Regions from separate parts of the Homo sapiens genome. Here region 2 is reported to be linked to region 1. Evidence: microRNA targets listed by miRTarBase, many of them from high-throughput screens and not tested one by one. Region 1 holds a microRNA gene; the other region holds the end of a gene's coding sequence.

Region 1 (3,000 bases):
AAGTGAGAAACTCAACTTACAACTTTGTTATAATTTATATTGAGTGGCATTTCTTGCATATAAACATGTTTTCTCATATAATTGGGATCACATATTTTTGTTTTTTACTTATATATTCCATTAATTTTTTTTGAGACAGAGTCTTTTTCTGTCTCCCAGGTCGGAGTGCAGAGGCACGATCTTAGTTCACTGCAACCTCCGCCTCCCGAGTTCAAGTGATTTTCCTGCCTCAGCCTCCCGAGAAGCTGGGATTACTGGCACCCACCACCATGCCTGGCTAATTTTTGTATTTTTTGTAGAGAGAAGGTTTCACCATGTTGGCCAAGCTACTCTGTAACTCCTGACCTCAACTTATCTGCCCGCTTCGGCCTCACAAAGTGCTGGGATATAGGCATGAGCCACCGCACCCGGCCCTTATATTCCATTAAATATTTTTGAATATCCATTTTTGAATTGGCTATTTTTTCATAAAAATGTAAGAAAATTTATTTGTTCCCCAATCATCGAAACATTGTGGTTGTTTCCAATTTTTACTCCTATAAATGCTATATAAGTAGTTTTCATAGTGTGAGTATGATATGAACTTACTTAAACTTTCCATCTTTCTCATGACTAAAATTCAGTCTTTAGTTATTGGTCTTTTGTATTCTTCAGCAAATTTTGGTACATTGTCTTTGCCCAGTTTTTCAGCACGATTATTTCTCTCTTTTGTTTTAATGTTTAAAGGGTCTGGTTACGTGACCTTTTGGTTTTCTTTGGTGAGTAATTCAGAGTTAAACTAATATGGTATAATTTTTTGTTTTAAGTAAGGGAAGTCTTTGTCATTAATTTTTCTTAATAGGATACTTTAGAGCATATTATTTGCTATGAGAACTTTGAGAACTTATTTATTTTAACATAGGATATACGTTAAAGTATGCCCTAAAGGACAGTGCTTCTCAAACTTCAGTATGCTTACAAATGACCAGCATCATACTGTTAAAATGGAGATTCTTCATTTCAAACTAGCTTGCAGGTGATGCCAATACTACTAGTCCATGAACCATTCTTCCAATAACAAGACTAAAGAAGGCAGTATCAGAAGTCATTTAAAGGTCATTGTACCGTCTAGCCATAATACAGCTATATCTAAATAAATGATGTTTTGTGCTCTTTTTTGAGTAGCAAGAAAGCAGTAATACCTGCTTTTGTAAATGAAAGAATATTATAAAAATATACCCTTTCTTACCTATTCAGTTATTTGTAATTTATTGTCTAGATCATGGAGACTTACTTGCTAGCTGTCCAGAAGATGAGGCTCTCACTCCAGGTGATGAATGCATGGATGGGATACTGGATGAATCTTTGCTTGAAACCTGTCCAATTCAGTCACCATTACAAGTTTTTGCAGGAATGGGTGGACTGGCTCTTATTGCTGAAAGACTACCCATGCTATATCCAGAAGTAATTCAACAGGTAAGATAAGATTTCCTAATCGAGTATATCATTCCATAGCTAAGCCCTTCATTCTTTTTAATGTTTGTTTTTTAATGTACTTGGATTAACTTTGTAGAAATACCCTTTGCTTTATATTTTTTGAACATTATATAACTCTTTCAATGGTCAGTCTGTACAGAGCTTCATGACCTTCAGTAGGTATGGAAGAAATGTTGAAGATCAAGCACACTTGCCAGACTTACTACACTGTTGCATTTATCTTGATTTCATGGTTGTAACACTAGCATTCTCTTTTCTATGCTGCTTTAAGTGTGATATTTATTAGAGATATTATTGGAAATAGGAGAAGTAAAATAGCAGTGTATACTGCCACCAATATATGTCTTTTTGTTTACCTTTTATTCCTGTTTCAGGTGCCATTTCCATTTTTGGTGGTTTAAAAACATGACCTATTCCCGTGTTCATTTACGAAGCTGTCAATGTCTGTGCTTTCCATGCTCTTGTATCAATCAGTAGGAAGTATGGTGCATGGAGAGTTGTAAAAACAAAACTTTGTGTTTGTTGAATGAAGTAGGGGAATTATTCTCTTTGATTTCATGTCGTGTGTGTGTGTGTGTGTGTGTGTGTGTGTGTGTGTGGTTATTTTGGTATAGTAGCTCTAGACTCTATTATAGTTTCCTGAGCTGCTGTACCAAAATACCACAAACGGGCTGGCTTAAAACAACTGAAATTTATTCTCAATAGTTGAGGAGGCTGTAAGTCTGAAATCAAGATATCAGCAGGGCCATGCTCCCTCTGAATTCAGGCTGTAGGGAAGACTCCTTCCTTGCTTCTTCCTGGCTTCTATTGGTTGCCAGTAGTTCTTGCTGTTCATTGGTTTGTAGCTGAATCACTTTAATTTCTGCCTACGTCGTCATATGGCCATCTTTCCTGTGTGTCCTTGTATCTCTTTCTCCTTATAAGGACACCAGTCATTTAATGTAGGGTCCTGCAAACCATTATCTCCTCATCTTAACTTGATTACATCTGCAAAGGCCCCATTTCCAAATAAGGTCATCTTCATAGGTGCTAGGGGTTAGGACTTGAACATATCTTGGGAGGACAAAATGCAACACACAATAATACTTATTCATGTTATTGCTTCCCTAGTATTCAAAAATATAAGATGATATAACTATGTTATAAGGTGATTGACACAGAATGAGCAAAATTTTCTTACTAGACAATGACATAATTACTCAAAAGTTTGAAGCAGAAAAGACCCCAACATTTTCAGCATTATTATTGCTCAACATAAATGATTTTTTCTAATTTAGTATTCAGTGTGGTTCACTATATTGATTAGTAACTGGAAATGGGGTCCTGGTAATACATACCTAAGAATGTGAAAGTGACTTTAGAATTGGGTACTTGGCAGAGTATGGAATAATTTTGAGTAGCATGATTTAAAAAAAAAATCTAGATTACCTTGAATAGATTGTTAGATAAAATGTGGATGATAAAGCTTCTGCCAGTGAGGGCCCAGAAGGAAGTAAGGATCATAGGGGAGAAAACCTACAGTGT
Region 2 (3,000 bases), not on the chromosome of region 1:
GGATGCATAAATGTATGAATTATAATTATACTGATATAATACTACAATCATAATTGTACATTTAGAAATAATTAAAGTGTATAATTGGATTGTGTGTAATACAAAGGATGAATGCTTGAGGTGATGAATAACTCATTTACTCTGGTATATTACATGTTGTATGCCTGTATAAGAAAATAACCCATATATGCCATAGATAAATATGCATACTATGTACCCACAAAAATTTCGGAAAATAACAAGAGTGAAAATACAACATATGGGAATGATATTCTTCAATGTATTTGCTATTTAAAGCCACTGGAAAAAGAGAATACTAAAAATGTCATTCAACTATGTTACCATTGTTACCATCTTTTACCTACACCATTGAGTAAGGTGGGATAGGTTTAAGTTGGTGGCATAATGACACTTCATTCAAGCAACAATTATTTCAACACGTTAAAAATTTTGTTTAGTTAAAAAATTATGTTCCCACATAATCTTAAAATAATTTTAAAATTTACTGTATCTTATTACATAAATGTATAATTGGTAAAACAATTTACTACTAAAACAGATTTTCTCTCACTATAATGCAGAAGAATATTACTCTGAACACCTACCTCATGCATCACTCAATATTGTCAACTACAAAAAAGCCTCTCTGCTAGATTTTCATCATGGATCTTTCATTTCTGTCCTCACTCTTTCTTGTAAAAATTCACAAATAATGCCCACCTAATGAAAAAGAATCTCTCTTATCTCTGATGCAGCAACAATTCATCACATGCTTTCACATAAACAGGAATGTTGAAACAGTATGAAATAATTTGAGTTGAATTAACTATTATATGCTTTTCAAAAAATCTATACTTTTTTCAAGTGAAAAAATATACTTTAAATGTAGTATCTCTTCAAAAATCTTCTTTTCAACTTATATACAAAGAAATTCTCTAATAGGTTCAACTTTGGATTTTTTTAATACTTAATACTCTGATTTACTGCAGTGTCTAAAGTGTTAGTTCCTTAGTTCTTTCTACTGTAAATCCTCTGATGTTTACATACTCTTCTTTTTAGACTAAATATTTCTTCACATTTACTGCATCTACAAAATATTTTCTAGTGTAAACTGTTTAAGCTGCAGTTTTTGAACAAATGTTTTTCCACATTTATTACATTTGTAGGATTTCTCTCCAATATAAATTTTCTGATGTTGAAGAAAGTCTCCTTCAGTGTTTTCCCCTATTATAAAATGTGTACAACAAAATCCATGAGAGAAGTACAGGTACTACAACCCTCTTTATATTTGTATTGTTTGTCTTAAGAATACTCTTCTTCACTTTAAAGGCCTATATTTTCTGAAGTCTTTCAACAGAAATTACATTTATAATGTTTTTATTAAGTATGAACATTGCTAGTTAGTAAAATGTGAGGAGATATGACTTTTCTATATTTTTTATATTTCTATAACTTTTCTCGAATATAAAGGATATCATGTGCAAAAAGATGAGCATTGGTAAAAATCCTGCCACATTTTTTGCATTTCCAGGGGATTTCTTCAGTAGGAATTATATATATACAGTAAGATGTGACAAGCATTTGAAGGCTTTGCCACATTTTTCATATTTTTGTGGCTTCTCACCAATATCATTTCTCTTATATTTAGAATAGATTGAGTGTGGTTGCAAGCTTTGTCACACTTTCCACGTTTGCAGTTTCTCTTCAGTGTGAATTATCTTATGATTAGAAAAGACTGAGGAAGATTTAAAGACTGCCACATTCTTCACATTTGTAAGACTTTCCTCCAGTATGAGTTCTCATTATGTTTAAGAAGCCTGGAGTATGGCTTAAAGGTTTTGTCACATCTTTTACATTTCTATGGTTTTATATCTAGGATGAATTCTTATATTCATCTTTCATATCTTCTCAATGTAAGTTTGTGGAATGAATCTTCTACTCTCAAATATGAATTTTCATAAAGGTTTGTGGATGGTCTGAAGGCTCTGCCACGTTTTTCACATTTGTAGCATTTTTTTCCCCAGAATGAATTATCTTGTGCACAGTAAGGGTTGAGAACCTATTGAAGGCTTTGCCACATTCTTTACATGTGTAGGGTTTCTCTCTGGTATAAATTCTCTTATGTTTAACAAAGTTTGAGGATGTGGTAAAGACTGTGCCACATTCTTCGCATGTGAAGCATTTTGCTCCAGCATGAATTCACTTACGTTCATTAAGGGTTGAGGACCATTTAAAGGCTTTGCCACACGGTTCACATGTGAAGTTTCTCTCCAGCATGAATTATATTTATTAAGCATTGAGGACCAATTAAATGCTTTGCCACATTCTGCCACATGTGTAGGGCTTCCCTCCAGCATGATTTTTCTTATGTTTATTCACCGGTGAGGGCTGTTTAAAGGTTTTGTTACACTCTTTACATTTGCAGGGTTTATCTCCAGTAATAATTTTCTTCTGCTCATTCAGGTTTGTGGACCATTCACAGGCTTTGCCATATTCTTCACATTTGTACAGTTTCTCTCCGGTATGAATTCTCTTATGTTTATCAAGGTTTGAGAATGAGGTAAAGAACTTTGCCACGTTCTTCACATTTCCAGGGTTTCTCTACAGTATAAATTTTCTCATGTTCATTAAGGTTTGTGGATCATCCAAAGGTTTGCCACATTCTTTACATTTGTAGGATTTCTCTCAAGTATGAATTTTCTTATGTTTATTCAGGTGTGAGAACCGTTTAAAGGCTTTGTCACAATCTTTACATTTGTAGGGTTTATCTACAGTATGAATTTTCTTATGTTGACTCAGGAGCGAAAATTGTTTAAAGGCTTTGTCACATTCTTTACATTTGTAGGGTTTATCTGCACTATGAATTTTCTTATGTTGACTCCGATCTGTGGACCGTCTAAAGGCTTTGCCACATTCTTCACATTTGTAGGGTTTCTCTCCAGTATGAATTTTTTTATGTTCATTCAGGACCCTGGACCGTCCAAAGGCTTTGCCACATTC

Evidence for each region. The annotated mature microRNA hsa-miR-558 reads UGAGCUGCUGUACCAAAAU and lies in region 1 at 2,117-2,135, shown strand. An mRNA with a match to its seed (bases 2 to 7 or 8) in the 3' UTR can be bound and repressed. Matches are read on the target gene's strand: a 7mer-m8 pairs with bases 2 to 8, a 7mer-A1 pairs with bases 2 to 7 and ends in A, and an 8mer does both.
Region 2: the mRNA of ZNF141 is a reported target of hsa-miR-558. The part of its 3' UTR that is shown has no 7-base or 8-base seed match.

Annotation. Positions count from the first base shown.
Region 1 is chr2:32,530,097-32,533,096 of GRCh38, forward strand. MIR558 (microRNA 558) reads left to right here and starts at 2,057; the gene lies at 2,057-2,150. It overlaps BIRC6 (baculoviral IAP repeat containing 6), which reads left to right. Exons shown (of 74, transcript NM_016252.4): 61 at 1,259-1,455.
Region 2 is chr4:373,548-376,547 of GRCh38, reverse strand. ZNF141 (zinc finger protein 141) reads right to left here. Exons shown (of 4, transcript NM_003441.4): 4 at 1-3,000. The coding sequence ends at 2,686. Among named protein-coding and RNA genes, the nearest start is that of MIR571, 25 kb to the right of the region's middle.